Homo sapiens: one gene and its partner. The protein of the gene in region 1 purifies or fractionates together with the protein of each later gene. This does not show direct contact. Each region holds a gene or a part of one and is shown in the gene's direction. Other genes may lie near its edges.

Region 1 (9,900 bases):
TGGATTTGGAAAGGCAGGAAGGATCCAGAAGATGCCAAGTACTGTTGGCCACCAGAAAGAGTCTGGGTTTTTTTCTGAGAGCAGGCAGAAGCAAACCAGTGTTTGAGGACTGTTGTTCAGGCTGCTGTCTGGCAGGAGATGAGAGGGTCGGGTGTTAGAAGCAGGGAGACCCGTTAGGAGGCTGTTGCAGTCCTCCAGGCCATGCTTGGCTGACTCAGGAGTGAGGACTGGGAGTGGCTGGCACCAGTGGGAATAAAGAAGGAAGAGCAGGCTAGGCACTGTGGCTCACGTCTGTAATTCCAGCATTTTGGAAGGCTGTTGTGGGAGGATCACTTGAGGCCAGGAGTTCAAGACCAGCCTGAACAACATGGTGAAACCCTGTCTCTACAAAAAATTTAAAAATTAGCAGGGCATGGTGGCATGTGCTTGTAGCTACTGGGGAAGCTGAGATGGGAGGATTGCTTGAGCCTGGGAGGCCGAGGCTGCATGAGCCAAGATTGTGCCACTCCACTCCAGCCTGGGCAACAGAGCAAGACTCTGTCTCAAAAAAAACAACAACAATAATAATAGAGAAAAAGAAAAAAAGAAGGAAGACCAACACACGGATTGCAGGCAGATCAGGACGAGAACTCAATGTCTGATAGGTGGATGGATGTGGAGAGTGGGACAACCAAACCTCAAGGCCACATTTTCCAGGCTCAATGACCACATGGACCTCAGTGTCCTCACTGCAGATGCTTAACACATGCCATTTCCTTTGCCCCTTTCTCTTCCATTAGCAGCTCTGAACAAGAGAGGCCTGGCCTGGCCCCTAAAAGATCTTCAGAGGTCTTTTGGAATCTAGATAAATAACACTAGTTGAGCTTTTTCTATGTGCAACTTGCAAGGTGCTTTATAGACAATGTTTTCTTATACATGGCTCAGAGCAGTCCCTTGAGAGTGCTCTTGTTATCTGTACCCTAGATGAGGAATCTGGAGCTCAGCAAGGTTAATAACTTCCCAGAGTCACAGGGTTTACCTATGGCAGGATCTTGGTTAGAGCAGGGATCAGTCTCACTCTGAAGCAATCACTCTTGAACCACACCGCAGCCTCCCCTGACCCGTGAGTATCCCAGAATAGTGTCAAGTCTCCCCTACCTTTCCAAGCCATTGCTCTAGGACTGACCAGCTGCAACACACCTTTGCTGGAAGCTTCAGTGAGGGCCTCTGCCCCAGGCCAGTCCCTTCCTGTGCCCTGTACCTACCGGCACTGAAGACTGCCATCTAGTGGCCATTGCCTTCCTTTTTCTTTTGCTGTTAAAGGAAAACGGAGTTCCCACATAAAAGACAGGCCTGCATATTTATAGTATCACACCCTGTAAACAGGAAACTTCTCAGTGTTAGAGAAGGAGCCCAGCAACATAAACAGCATATTGCCAATGAGTTCCGCCACCCATTCAACAAACACTTAAATACACACACACACACACACACACACACACACACACACACACATTCTATTGGAATGTAGGCTCCCAGAGAGAGGAATTTCTTTTGTCTGTATTGCTAATGAACCTGGAGAGCTTAGAACAGTGGCATTTGCATAGCAGATATGCAACAAATATTTATTGAGTGTGGAATGAATGAACGCCTGACATTTACTGTATCTTTACTATATACCAGGGACTTGACATATACATTTTCTCATTTAATCCTAACGATAACTCGAGAGATAGAGACCATTAGCATGTCCAGTCCTCATATGTGGAGACTGAGGCACAGAGAGGGTAGGAAGCTTGCCAGGTTTAGGGAGAACTAGCTTTGACCCAGGTTTTCTGACATTAGAGACCATGTGTTCCCTCCTTTCAAGGGAGCCACTGGCCAATTCCCTCCCATGTTCTGCCTTTATTGAGTGGAAGGCTCCCTTCCCAAAGTGTTGAGACAGAGGCCATCAATGGAGGGAATGTCACTAGCTAACTCTGTGGCTGTGTGACTTCCAGTGTCCCTGAACCTCAGGTTCCTCATTGGGTAAAGGAGGAGACTGAGTTAGGACCCCTGCCTTCCCTTCCAACGTCATCATTCTGCTGTTCCTGTGACTCCCAGGGAGCAGATGTGAGTAGAAGAGAGAGGACCACTTGTTGCTAGGCAACCAGCACCCACCTCACCCATGTTGCCATGGTGATGATGAAAGTTGGGCTGATGGGATTACCAGCTCCTGCTAATTGCATATGAGTGCTCAGGTTTCTGTCTCTTTCTTGCCTGCTTGCTCGCTCTGACTTTCTCATTCTTCTAGGAACTGTAGAGCGATTTCCCCCTCTCCTCCATCTGCAGCCTCCCTGAGGCAGCCCTAGTGCAATGGAAAGCAACTGGGAATGGAGCCTGGCTGTGTGTCTGAATAGCTGTGTGACCTTGGGCAGGTTACCCAGCTTCTCTGGGCCTTTCTTTTCTCATTTGGAAAATGAAGGTGTTGGAAAAGTGATCCCTGTCTAAGGTTCTTCCCGGCTCTCAAATCCTTTGATGCCTAGGGAGCTTGTCAGGGGAGCAGACCACACTGTTACTAGGCAACCAGCAGGCACCCTGCCCAAGTTGCCTTGGTGACTGGATGCTGGAGGGGAGGGGAGTAGCTGCTGCAGCTAATTGCTTAATTATTTATGAGTGCCTCAAGTCCTTCTTGTTGTTTTTGTTGCTAGGGGCTGTGGGGTCACCTTCTCTTCCTCTCTTCTGCCACCCCAAGTCGTCTGTGTTGCGTGTCATGCAGTGGGACAGCACGTTGGTCCGGACCTCAAGCTACCCACGTTCTAGTCCCGCCTCTGTCATTTCCTAGAGCTGTGGCCTCGGGTAAGTCACCTCACCTCTCTGGGCCTCAGTTTCCTCATTTGTAAAGTGATGGGTTTGCTTAGATGATCGCTGAATCCCCTTTCTACCTTGAAATTCTAGTTCCTGCCATCCAGTTCCCAGATGAGGGAAATTTCCCCAATTTATTATCTTCTAAGAATGATTCTGAAGAGCAATAAAAATAATTAAGTCTCTTACATATTTCAAACAGGAAGGGAATGAAAGTTGTGACCATTGTTCCCTCCTTAGCCATTTTGTATAATCTCTTTTATTAATCTTAAGGTCATTTAAATTTTATCTATTCATATATACCACCTACTTCCAAAATAAATTTGAGGGGTTCAGTGTAAGGTGCATATATGCTATTAGGTCTTTAAAATAGAAATAGGAATAAATATAAAAATAGTGATGCTTCTTCATTGGCTAATATTGGTGCTGTGATTGAGCACCAAATGTAATTATGAGCAGCCTGGAAGCCAAAGCAAAAAGAGAGAAAGGTATATAATTGCTATTCAGTAAAGAAAAACTGCCAGACTGTTCCTAGTTCTAAATTCTGGAGGGAATTTTTTCATGTGGTACACAATCCTTTTACAGAAACTGCAGATAAAAATTCTTGACTAGCCCTTTTTTGCTGAGGATATTGTTAAAGGACATAAGGAAGGAGCTAAACTTGACAGTTTGACTAGCTTTAATCATTAGAAAGCAAAACTTCCTTTCTACCCATGCCTTGGAATTTTATACAGATATGTGTCACTTCGTAAATATAAATTTTCAGAATCAACCATTATTTATATATCAGCTATATATAAATTCATGTAACCACTTTGCAAAGCAATTTGGCAATATGTATCAAATTTTTAAATGCAGCCAACAATTCTTCTCCAAACTTATTCTGAGATTAGCTTGTGTAGATGAAGAAAGCCATAAATATAAAAATACTTATGGTAGCATTATTTATATAAGAAAATGTCTAGAAACCACATAAATGTTGGAGGCTAGTGAATTAAATTATATTACCTCTTTACAATGAATTACTTTGCAGCCCTTAAGATAAAGTAGATCTATATGTTTTGATATGGAAAAATCTTCAAGGATATAATGTTAAGTGAAATAAGAAGGTACAGCATTGGTATTAAATGCTTCCATTTTGGTTATAAAAAAGATATAGATTTATAACTTATGAATCTAGATATATGCTTGCATGTGCATACTTGCATTTTTCTGGAAGGAAACTGTTGCCAGTGGTTTCCTCTGGGAATGAAGATTGATAGTCTTGGGAGGGAGGGAGACCTACTATTCACAGCTTGTTTTTACGTTGTGGACTTGTTAGTGTTCTGTGTAGAGAGGTAGGAGAGTCTGGCAGTTGAAAGTCTAGACTCTGGAGTCTGAATACCTATGTTCAAATCCCAGCTGTCCCACTTACTAGCTCTGTGACCTTGGGGTTATCTTAATCTTATCTCTGTTCCTCATCTGTAAAATGGGTTAATAGTATCTTCCTCATTGGCTTATTGTAAGGATTAAATGAGTTATTACGGGTAAAGTGCTCAGAGCAGTTTAAACAATGCCATATACCACGCTTCTTGGAAAAATGAAAGGAGATATTAAGCAACAAGATAAATGCATCTAACCAAAAGCACCCTCCCCTGTTTTAGTGTTGGACAGATTTTATAAAATCTGTCATTGCTTCCAGCATTGTATGTTGTATAGAAGTTAAGTTTAAAGCAGCGGTCTTGTTTTTATTATTGTCACTTTATGTGACCTTGATTACCTTTTAGGGAGGGCATCTACTCTGGGATTCATGACAGTCTGCTATGATGCTGTTGATGCCCCTGAACTCATCTTGTTTTGTAGCTCTTCCATCCCAGCGAATGCTCAAGGCATGAACAGAACACATGCTAGGCCAGGTAGAAGGTCAATGAGGAGATGGCATCCCACGCCCTTCACTGTTCAAAGCCAGAGAGGAACTATCTAGAAATTCAAGTGTAAAGAGGATGTCCATGCTGGTTGTGACATGTGTGTTCACAGGCCTCATGCCTTTGCTTTTCTTTTGAAAAAGAAAGTGACAGAGACCTGGGGAGATGCTGTGTTAGGAGGGCCCCTCCTACTTTGGGCTCAGGAATCTCACCGCCTAAGGGACTTCCTGGGTGCTCAGAGGTACAGGAAGCAGAGCGCTCTGTGTTCACAGGTGCCCGCTTTCCTCCTCCCGACTCGCCGGTGCTTTAGGGCAGATCTGGATACTTTGGCTGATTTTGGGAAATGTTCTCTGAAGTTAGCCACACGTTAAGCCAGGCTTGAGGCCTTCACTGTGGTCACATGGTAGCTCCAGAGGTTGGGATGGGGGCTCTGGCCCCTTCAAATCAGCGGAGTTAGGAAGTATGCTCTCACCAAGAGGAATGCAAAGCCCACCTGCTCCAACCTCATGCCCCAGTCGGTGGTTCTCTTGTTCGTTCTTCTTTCTCGCCCTTTGTTCTGTACTCGCGGGCACTGGAGTCTCTTTATCCATTTGGCCATCGGTTCCCCTCTCCATTTATCTGTCACACCCAACTGTGCTTCCATCTGCCCTCCATCCCTCCTTCTCTCCTCCAGCCATCTGCCAGCCTTCACTCCATCCTTCTGACTGCTGGTATGTCTGTCCATCCCTCCTTCCCTCGCACCACGTGGGTCTGGGGCTCCATCCCCTGTCCCATCCATCCCTCCATCTGTCCCTAGCCTGCCGCTCCATCCCGCTGCCCTTTTGCATGGCTGCAGAGCCAGCCCGCAGACCGTTCCCCGGTCCCTCTCACCCCCGTGGGCCCTCTAGCCCGTCCCCGGCCGCCACTCCAGGCCAGGCCGTCAGTCTCCCACGCTGGGCCCGCGCCTGAGCGGGATCGGCCCCCCATCCCTCCGTGGGTCTGTCTTTGTTCGGCGGCCCCGGCCCGGCCGTGCCTCCCACGGCCCCTCCGCGCGGCTCCCAGGCCCTGAAGGCGGCGGGCGGCGGGCGGCGGGCGGCGGGCGGCTAGCCCGGGGCGGGGCGGGGCGCGCGGGGCGGGGCGGGGCGGGGGCCGGGGGTGACTCAGCCGCGCTCGCCCCGCGGTCCGCGCGTCCGCCGGCCTTGCAGGCGGGGCGGAGAAAATGGCGCTGCCCCCGGCCGCCGCGCCCCCCGCCGGGGCCCGGGAGCCGCCGGGGTCCCGCGCCGCCGCCGCTGCCGCCGCCCCCGAGCCGCCGCTCGGCCTGCAGCAGCTGTCGGCGCTGCAGCCTGAGCCGGGCGGGGTCCCGCTGCACTCGTCCTGGACCTTCTGGCTCGACAGGTGAGGGGGCGCGGGGCCCGCCGCGCACGGCCCCGACCCGGGTCCTGCCGCCACCGCCGCTTTGTCTCGGCGCGGCCCCTCGCCCCGGCCCCGCTCCGCTGTGGCACAGACCTCGGCCCCTCCGCGCGTCCGCCTGCGCACCCCGGGACTCGCCCCGCCGGGTCGGAAGCCAGCTTCGGGCCGCGCCGGGCGGCTGTTCGGCGTCCTCGCCTCCGGGCCGGGGGAGGACAGCGCAGCCCGAAAAGTTTCGGCAACACTTTCTACCCCTTGTTCCCTTCCGATCGGAACGCGGCGTGCTGGCAGGGCCGTGGGAGAGGGTAGGCGAGCTGGGGGTGGCCGCGTCCCTGCTGCAGGGAGAGGGCTGTCCTGCTTACCCCGCGGGGCGCCTGGGAGCTCAGGACACGACCTCAGCTGTGACAGCGCTCGGAAAAGTTGCCCATCCCTTGGGAGGTGTGCGGTGGTGCAATGATTATTGCACGGCGGGCGCTCCCACCCCGTGTCCGGCCGCTGCTGCCGTGGACTCCTCTTCCAGTTCTTCCTCATCCACTGGGCAGGTATTTCCTGAACACCTACAGTGGAGCCACACACCTGCTATGCGCTGGAGATTCAATAATGAGCAGCAGCTGACCTTGTCAGGAAGGGGGTGAATTATGGCTTTCTCAAGGGACAACCCAGGTGCCATCTTTTCAGAAAGACCCCCTGACTACCGTATCTAAAATAGAAACCTTGCTCCCTCGTTTTGTATTCTCCTGCCCTGCCTTCTTTTTCTTCCTAATGCTTAATGCAGCTGGATTTTATTATATATGAATTTGTTTACTTTCAGTCTGTCTCCCCAGCTCCTCAACACCTCCCCTCAGTTAAGGATAAAAGAGCAGTGGATTTTTGTTTTTGGACATTTTGGACCTAGAACTGTGCCTGGTCCCTAGTAAGAACACCAGAAATTGTTATGAATGAATAGATGGATGAATGCAAAGCCCCTTCTTAGTGTCTGCCCTGCAGTGGGTGCCCAATGATGACACCTCAAGGTTGTCCCAAGAGCATTTGGAAATTTTGATGAAACCGTGTCTATTCTGGCTAAGTGTTAGGAAGAAATGTGTGACAGTGTTCTGAGAAGTTTGCTTGGTACACACAAATCTGGTTTTAAAAGGCTTTGCATAAAATGACTGCAAGATTTTGTTTTAAAAAAGTGATATTCATTTTTTTTTTGGTTAAGACAAGCTCATTTCTTTTTTCCTTTTGGGTTCTTATAGCACCCGTCTATAAGAATTGTCACTTGCTGCCATTTTCTTTGCCGGAGACCCAAAAAAGTTGGGGGTGGGGGAGATGGAGTGAGTTTCGTTCTTTCAAAACATTTTCACTTTCATTATGGGATGCTAAGAGAGCATTATACTGTCATAACAAGCGTGCTTTTGGCAGACCTTAGCAGAATGAAATCGTGTCTGTTTTCATAGGTGTGCTGCAACTGTGCTATTGTTACCTGGTATCTGTTTTCAAGGTGTTAAACCTGGACCTGTGGTCTAAATTGTGAATACTGCTGACTGGTGGAAACAGTATCAAGAGAGTTTCTTTTTAAACAGGTCTAAAATTAGTTTACATGTAGGAACAACACTTTTAAGGACTGGTCTAAAATGTCAATACTACAGATAACACAATCTTTTAAGACTAGTAGCTTAAGATTATAGTAACTTTAATGAAGACAAAAACTATATCTATACTATTGATTTACACATTTTTGTTCTCTAAAGGTCGATCATCAAATGAAATACATTATTGCCACAGTGTCCAGATCTTTAATAGAAATGGCTGTATTAATTTAGAAATTATAATGAGTTCCAATATTGTACATATGAATTCATTTTGCCCGATCAAACAACTCATAATTTTTATTGAACTTTTTCTCCTTCTGTGGGAATCCATTACCTTTATATAGGGTGCCCCTCTCCCCCTTGAGGTTATGAACACATTATGATCTAGAAGTTCATTAGTAACTTTTCTCCCCAGGTAAACAACATTCTAGAGACTGGTGAGGTTCTCAGGAGAGCCCTCCAAGGCAGCCTTACCTGCAGCATAGCCAATGTCTGCCTGGCAAGATGACATCGGTTTTTGAGTTCCATAGCATGCAAAGGCCTCTTGCTACTTAAAACTCCCCTTTGGCATCCTACCTCCCGGCCTGTCCTACTTTCCAGCCTACTGTGTGCTGATGAGCAAGCCATCTAGCTGCCCCAAGCCTCACTTTCATTGTAAAATGGGATAGTCATAGGCTATGTCTCACAGGGCAGTTCTGAGGATTAAATGAGAGACATGATGTACAACACCTAACAGGTGCCAGCTGGTAGAAGGAGCTTCCTAAGCATAAACTACTAACACTGTCATTACCATGCTCCCCAGCTACCAACCCCTCCCCATACCCACACCCCAACAAACAGTCTCTGGAGCAGCTTGTCTGAATTCTGTGTTGGGAAGCCAGAAACCTAAATTCATTCCCCTCACTGGATGAGTTGGAGAACTCCTCTGTAAAGTTATTAGTATTTTTAATAGTCAACTCCAATAAGTCCTTATTTGGTTAAAAAATTAGACTGTATGGTTAAGGATTTCGGCATTTGAGGAAGGTAATTTTAGATTGGGGGTACAGGCTGAAGAGTTTTTCTCCCCTTTTCTGGACATTTAAAACTATCCTGTCTTGATTCTTGGAAGCCACTCTGGGTTATGTGTCTCTAACTGCTTCCTTTTGATCTTATGGTGACCCGCTCGCCTCTGAGTTTTTTCCCACAAGACTCAGGCCTCAGGCCTCTTCTTTGTGCCATTTACACCAGGGATCTCATCCAGTCACAGTGCTTTCAGGTCCACCTGAATTCTGGTGACTCTCAAAACCTTACACTCTTAGATCCAGTGCTCCTTCCCCTTTGTCTCCATGGATGTCCAATGTAATACACAACCAGACTCAACATATACTGAACTACCTCCTCAACTGCCTTCCCAAACTTGTTTCCTTCTATCTGTATCTCAGATAAGAGCAGTTAAGAGCAAGTCTATCCTTCCAGTTGCCCAGCCCAGAAATCTTAGAGTCATCTGTAACCACCTCCCACCCCCGCCCCCCCGAGGAAAAGCCAAAGGGCTTACAGGAACCATAAAGCTTTGCAGCTCTTCCTGCCCCACCCAGGACCCTTTTCTCCCTTGTCACTCTCCCTTCTGCCATGCCCTTCTTTCTGCTCATCGGTCCCCTTGCTCTTTCGCCTTCATCCCAAGCAGGGACCTTAGCCACTGACACCCCCTACTGCTTGGAGTGCTCTCACCTCCATCAGTGCTTGCCCTGCTCTTTCCTGTCCTTCAAGCCTCTGCTCACATGTCACCTTCTCAGACCTTCCATATTAGTCTGTTCTCACACTGCTACGAAGAATTACCCAAGACTGGGTAACTTATAAAGGAAAGAGGTTTGACTCACAGTTCCACGTTGCTGTGGAGGCCTCAGGAAACTTACAATCATGGTAGAAGCCAAAGGAGAAGCAGGCACCTTCTTCACAGGGCAGCAGTACCAAGTGAGTGCAAGCAGGGTAAATGCCAGACACTTATAAAATCATCAGATCTCATGAGACTCACTCACTATTACGAAAACAGCATGGGGGAAGCCACCCCCATGATCCGGTTACCTTCACCTGGTCCTGCCCTTGACATATATGGGGATTATGGAGATCACAATTCAAGATGAGATTTTGGGTGGAGACACAGCCAAACCATCTTATGTTGCCTGACCACTGTTATGAAATGGCGCAAGCATCCTGACACACACACCCCGAGCCCC
Region 2 (7,000 bases), on another chromosome or scaffold:
TTAGTCCCAAACAATCTGTGTATTTCCTGATTGCAGAGTCAGGAAATACTTAACTTTTGAAGCAATAATGGTTACTCCTGGGAAGTTTTATAATTGGCTGCATAGTGATAACGTGGACTTTAATAAATACAATGAAAATACCGCCAGCTTATTTAGAAAGAGAGAACTTAGAGCTAATACTGAGGACTACACCAGTTTGGCAAAATCATTGCTCTTCGTGACCACCTCCAGTTTCCAGCTGGCTTCCTGATCAAAGGTATCTTTCCTTAGTGCTTTTTCACTCTCCAGATTTTCTCCTGTGTTTGTTCAGGTCTTTGAACATCAGTGTTTGGTAGTTGTAGAATTTGTTTTATTTTGAAATCAGGTAAAATGTAGTTTATAAAATGTTAATGGGTTTTTTGAAGTATGTTAAGTAACTATGATAACCAATTAATGAGAAAGAACAGCATGACATCAAGGAATCTAGAAGCAATATTTTTTTTTTTTTGTCTAGAGTGAGGAATTGCTTTAATGTCTGAGTCTTGGTACTTGATTCTAAATTGTTTTAGTGAGGTCACTGAAGGTGTAACAACAAAATACTAGCTAAAGGTGGCACTGTGCTTTTTCTAAATATAATGAGACCCTTATTTCTGTTGAATTGATTCCTGTGTGTTAATGGAAATGGATCATTTTAACAACTTGCACACTACTTCAGGTTTAATCATAAAGGTGATTTTTCCCTCTCTTGATTGTACATTATCCTGCCTTTATATTGGCATTAATCCAAAAATTAACTCACAGAATGTGGATCTCGATGAGACCTTATCAACCATCTATCAAGTTCCCCCATTCACTTTGCTCTTGAGGAAGTTATCTGGCAGAGGTGCAACAACTATTCCCAGAGGTCTTGAGCAAAATATTGGGGATAGAATATAAACCTGTCAGTCCCTAGTTTGGTTGAGCCTCTTTCAGTATCATTGTTTTGTGTTAATAGATTAAATGCTGCCACTGAGTAGAAATCTTGCCTTAAATTGGTGTGTGTAAATCGTCATTAGGCTCTGTGGGTTGTAGGCAGATTCTGAGCAGCGGAATTATTTGTAGCTACAATATGTAGCTAGGGTGTGTAGCTTGAGGTGCTCTATAACATTTAGAGTCATTCTGGAAACATACCGTCACTTCCTAGTTTGGGTGAATGGTGAGCAGAGTGAGAAGCCACTGCTTTCTATTTTTGGGTGTGACAGATCTCTTGAGTCACCAACGGGAATTTACTAAACTGTCTCAGTCCTGAAGAATTTATATCAGAGTTCTAGGTAGTTTTTCACTCCTATATATATGACTCTGTTTGCTGTCAGCATTCATTCAAGTTCTTCTGAGCCCAGACCATTTTCCTAGTGGCCACAGGGAGGAATTCTAGTAAGCAACAAAATCCCCCCAACTCAGTCTTTCACTTAAGAGCTTATGGTACGATGGTACAGGAGAAAGAGATATTGAAAAGATACAACACATATAAGAAGGATTCAAATTCGTTCAACAATATTTGTAAATGTATGTATAAATATATGTCAGTTAACACTATGCTACAGGAGAATCCTATGATTCCAAAATATTGTATGTATGTACAAGTACTTGATAGAAATTTTATTTCTCTTGCATTGTTTCTGATGAATCCCTTAAGTAAATGCTTCAATACAAGATTTTCATGATTCTCTGATCACTCATTTCCCCGCTATGGATATTTTACTGTGCTTATATGAGCAGTGTGCCCCTTCTGGTGTGGCCTAAGTGAGTAGTCAGGGGCTGTATAATGCTAGTGTTTATACTCTGTGTTTCACATGAGGATAAGCAAAAAAAAAAAAAACAGAGCTGTTGTTAGATTAGTTTTGCAGAGTCTCTGCAACCCATGTCATTCAAGTTGTGGTTAGTCATAACCTGAGAAAAGGTAGTAAAGGTAACTAGAACCAGTTTTGTGTTGTAATATTAGCATCTTAAATTATTAAAGATTAAATTATGTACTCAGTTTAGAATTCAAGATGATAAACTTTGCTTATATAAATTGGATCACTTACAGAATTACATTTAGGTGTTGAGTTTTTACCTGTAGTCACAGGGAAGGATCCTGGGAGACTACAGAAATTCAGCCACAAATCAGTTTTTCATGTAAAAACTCTTGATATGGCGGTAGAGAAATTCAAAAGACTTGACACAATTAAGGTTGAATTGACTTTATGTGCAATCTCAATTGTAGAATGGAACTCTGAGGTTGTATGTAAATCATTTAAATATTTGTAACAAGATAAAATATCTGCAGTAAAATCAGTGCTACAGGCTATATTTCTGATTCCGTACTCTGTAGAGACACTTTTGGAGGCATACTTGGGTTAAAAATTAGATGAAAAGTATTTAGTGGAAATCAGACAAAAAGATTTTGGGTTAAAAATCAGATTAAAAATATTTAGTAATCAGATGAAAAGTAGAGAGAAAGAAGAGATCATTCTCCTAGGGCTTTGCCCACTAGAATCATTTTATTTTTTGCAGGTTTGCACGGTTGAGTGTCAGCTAGCTCACTCTCCATAGCTTTGGCCCTTGCCAGGTAAGGTAAATCACATACTAAGGCAGTAAGAAAATGATGAAGGGTTGAGGTTGCTAGTCACATGTTAGCACAGATACCTGACTTTGTCCCTGAGACATGGCAAGTGTTCAGGGTGAGTCACTGAAGCTATAGCATGTGGATTTTATCCTTTCATAGGAAATACTTGGTCTAGCAAGCGGAAATTCTTGTTATTTGTAAACTATGAATGTTCTAGCAGTATATCCCAAATAATTACAACAGCCCCTCCTTATCCACAGTTTCAGTCACCTGTGGTCATCTGTGGTCCGAAAATATTAAATGGATGTGGCAATAAACTGTTAACATCTCTGAACTCAGAGACCTTGTGGGAGGAATGTGCCTTGTATGTTGGAGAAATAGCAAGGAGGCCATTGTGGCTGGAGCTGAGTAGAAGGGAATTTAGTAGGAGATAAACTCTAGGAACCAATTGCCAATCAGGAAATCTTTGAATCCACCTACGATCTGGAACTGCACCGCCCCCACCATGCACACTCCCCACCCTGCCCCTTTGAGTTCTCCCACCTTTGTGGATCGAACCAATGTACATCTTACATATACTGATTGATGTCTCATGTCTCCCTAACATGTAGAAAACCAAGCTGTAGCCCAACCACCTTGGGCACATGTTCTCAGAACCTCCTGAGGCTGTGTCATGGTCATGCCCTTAACCTTGGCAAAATAAACTTTTAAACTGATTGAGACCTGTCTCAGATACTTTTTGGTTTATAGAATGTACCACATTTTATTTATCTCTTCACTTGCTGATGGACGTTTGGATTGTTCTCAGTTTTAGAGTTGTGAACCAGAAAATCTGAGACAGGTCTCAGTTAATTTAGAAAGTGTATTTTGCCAAGGTTGAGGATGCGCACCTGTGACACAGCCCCAGGAAGTCCTGATGACATGTCCCCAGGGTGGTTAGGGCACAGCTTGGTTTTATACACTTCAGGCAGACATGAGACATCAGTCAATATATGTAAGAAGTACCTTGGATCCGTCTGGAAAGGCGGGACAATTTGAAGCAAAGGCAGGAAGACTCAAAGCAGGGAGGGAGTTTTTAGGTCATAAACAGGTGCTATGGTTACATTCTTTTGAGTTTCTGATTAACCTTTCCAAAGGAGGCAATCAGATATGCATCTATCTCAGTGAGCAGAGGGGTGACTTTGAATAGATAGGAGGTAGGTTTGCCCTAAGCAATTTTCAGCTTGAGTTTTCCTTAGTGATTTTGGGGGCCTAAGATATTTTCCTTTCACAGGGTATTGGGACAAAAGTGCCTTTGAATATTTGTTTGTAGGCTCTTGTGTGGACATGTTTTCCAGTCTTTTAATTTTTAGGAGTGGAATGCCTAGGTAATGAAGTAGGTCTATATTTAACTCCTAAGAAACTGCCAAACCATCCTCTAGAGTGGTGTGTCATTTTATATGTCTGTGTACAATGTATGAGAGTTCAGTTGCTCCCATGTCCTTGCTGGCAGTCTTCTTTTTATCTTAGCCATTCTAAGAGGTATATAGTGGTATCTTATTGTGGTTTTAATTTGCATTTTCTCTGATAGTTAATGCTGATGAGGGATGTCTAGGTTTTAATCTCCTCATCAAAAAAGGTTATTTTGTCCTCATGGTTGGAACTTTGGTTCCTTTCAGCTGAGGCACAAATAACTTTTAAACACAATCAAAAGACATATTATGACATAATAGGTTGGCAGTGGCTTATATAGTTTCATGGTTTTGTTTCTGGGAGACTCATTTAAAGTGGGAAAATATAATCCTGCTATTCAATTTCAATTTTCATTACATTTTAATTTTATCTTGAAGTCATTTATGTCAAATAATGTAAGTGTATGCTCTGTCTCGTGTAGTGTCTATTACTTTGTATATTATTTAGGATGAAAATACATTCCATGTGGTAATAATTGGGCTAGGTAAATGTAAATTGTCTCAAAACTTTCAACTAGAATCAGGGTTTTAATTTTTTCCCCCAGGTTCCTGATGTTATTAGCAGCATAAGGCAATTATCTAAAGCGGCCATGAAAGAGGATGCCAAACCCAGCAAAGATAATGAGGACGCCTTTTACAACTCTCAGAAGTTCGAAGTCCTGTACTGTGGAAAGGTGACCGTGACCCACAAGAAGGCCCCCTCAAGCCTCATCGATGACTGCATGGAGAAGTTCAGCCTGCACGAACAGCAGCGCCTGAAGATCCAAGGGGAGCAGCGCGGTCCGGACCCAGGAGAGGACCTGGCTGACTTGGAGGTGGTGGTGCCCGGGTCCCCCGGAGACTGCCTGCCGGAGGAGGCTGACGGCACCGACACCCACCTTGGCTTACCTGCCGGGGCCAGCCAGCCTGCCCTGACCAGCTCTCGGGTCTGCTTCCCTGAGCGGATTTTGGAAGATTCTGGCTTTGATGAGCAGCAGGAGTTTCGGTCTCGGTGCAGCAGTGTCACCGGCGTGCAACGGAGAGTTCACGAGGGCAGCCAGAAATCCCAGCCGCGACGGAGACACGCGAGCGCACCCAGTCACGTCCAGCCCTCGGACTCGGAGAAGAACAGGACCATGCTCTTCCAGGTACACCTGATCGGACGCTGTCTGCCCTTGCCCCAAAAGGTGCCAGATGGAAGTAGCTGGGCATCCAGTTCCTCCCAGCTCCACCTCTATATAACGAATAATCTAACTTTTATTTGTTTTCCCCTTCAAAGCAGATAAGGCAGGTGGAGGAAGAGTGCAGAGGAAAGTAGGGAAGGGGGGAGAGGCAGACGTGGAGTGTGGAGTATAAGAATTAAGGGAGTAGGGAAGGAAGAGGAGGAGGAAGCAATTCGTAGAACGTCCTGGACACCTGGTAGAGAGAATAAGAATCTATAACCAGCATTTGCCTTGGGGTGATTCTCAAATAAATGCTTAAAAAAAAATTGTAGGCCCGGCGCGGGGGCTCACGCCTGTAATTCCGGCACCTTGGGAGGCCAAGGTACGCGGATTACTTGAGGTCAGGAGTTCCAGATCAGCCTGGCCAACATGGCAAAACCCCGTCTCTATTAAAAAACAAAAATTAGCCGGATGTGGTGGGGGCGTGCCTGTAATCCCAGCTAATCAGGTGCTGAGGCGGGAGAATTGCTTGAACTGGGGAGTCGGAGGTTGTAGTGAGCTGAGATTGACCCCCTGCACTCGAGCCTGGGCGACAGAGCGAGACTCCATCTCAACAACAACAAAAAAATTGTAGAAAGTAAATCTTTAAAGATATGAATCTGAGAGAGTGCGATTTGGCATGGAGAAACAAGGGACTTTTTTTCTAGAGAAGAAAAAACTCCAGAGACTTGTATTTGTATTTTGAGTCGAGGACACACCAATTTATGCTGTCACACCAAAAGACGTTAAAGAAACATCATTGGCCTAAAAATGTACTGAATTGGATACTAAAATAATTTGATGCAAGCTGTAGTATTGGTATAAAAGATCATTCTTAATTCTAAACATTTTTGAATGTTGTACAGGGTATAGAAGGTGTCAGGTTCCGCTTAAAATAACTTAATTCCTAACAATACTCTGTAGAGAGTCTTTAATTCTCAGCTTGTGAGATTTGAGTTTCCTTGGGGGGAAAGAAAAGAGTGACTGTCTTTTTTAAACCTATTTTAAAGATTTCCTAAGAAGGAGATTCCGGAGTATTTTGGTAAATAGTACCGGTGTGTAATATCAGAAGTTTGCTTTATCGGAAGTTCATGAGGCTTTTTTTCACAAATGATAATATTTTATTATAGAAAAAGCATCCCAAATGCAGGATTTCATAAACACTCGTAGGTGAACAAGTACAGCTTCAAAAGTAAATTCAGAGTAAAGAGGCAACACTTACAAACATTTTGCCTTAAGGAGAAAATGTGATGTTCTCCTGCAGAAGTAATCCCACACAGAACACAAATGTGGCTCCATATCATGAAGGCATCAGATTTGCTTTCTGAGCTCAGTATGCCCATTTCAACAATTGAAAATGATGGCAAGAAGTAGCATTGAATATATTACTACTTGATTAAAAAAAAACACACCCCTGATTAAAAAAAAAAAATTAAGAGACAGGGTCTCGCTCTGTCATCCAGGCTGGAGTGCAGCAGTGTGATCACAGCTCACTACAGCCTTGACCCCTGGAAGTTCATATTTTTTCTTTTTTGTTGGTGGTGGTTTTGTTTTTAATGAACTCAAGGTATGTCATTAAAGCCTCTCTAGTCTTTGGTGATGTATTAACTGAATTTCCCCTTTTCTTGGGGTTATCAGATTTGTTCTTTTTTTAGTTAGTCACAGTCCTTGTTGTTAATTTTTCTGAATGGGTTATTTTCAAAGATTTTAATTCATTAGCCCAATTACAGATACATCCTTTTGCTGACCATTTAGAAGAAAGTATGATTATAACTTATTTTTTAAAATTACTATTTTTAGAA

What was found. Proteins that work in one complex are often made in the same cells at the same time.
Region 2: the proteins of EIF4E3 (region 1) and TBC1D4 purify together in Homo sapiens (affinity purification with mass spectrometry; 3 studies listed by BioGRID and IntAct, with this or other methods). This does not show direct contact.

Annotation. Positions count from the first base shown.
Region 1 is NC_000003.12:71,721,393-71,731,292, reverse strand, and holds the start of EIF4E3 (eukaryotic translation initiation factor 4E type 3), read left to right. Parts: upstream 1-5,890; 5' UTR 5,891-5,925; coding exon 5,926-6,101; intron 6,102-6,109; exon of another isoform or gene 6,110-6,418; intron 6,419-9,900. UniProt on the Homo sapiens protein: Recognizes and binds the 7-methylguanosine-containing mRNA cap during an early step in the initiation of protein synthesis. May act as an inhibitor of EIF4E1 activity.
Region 2 is NC_000013.11:75,360,170-75,367,169, reverse strand, and holds part of TBC1D4 (TBC1 domain family member 4), read left to right. Parts: intron 1-4,562; coding exon 4,563-5,144; intron 5,145-7,000.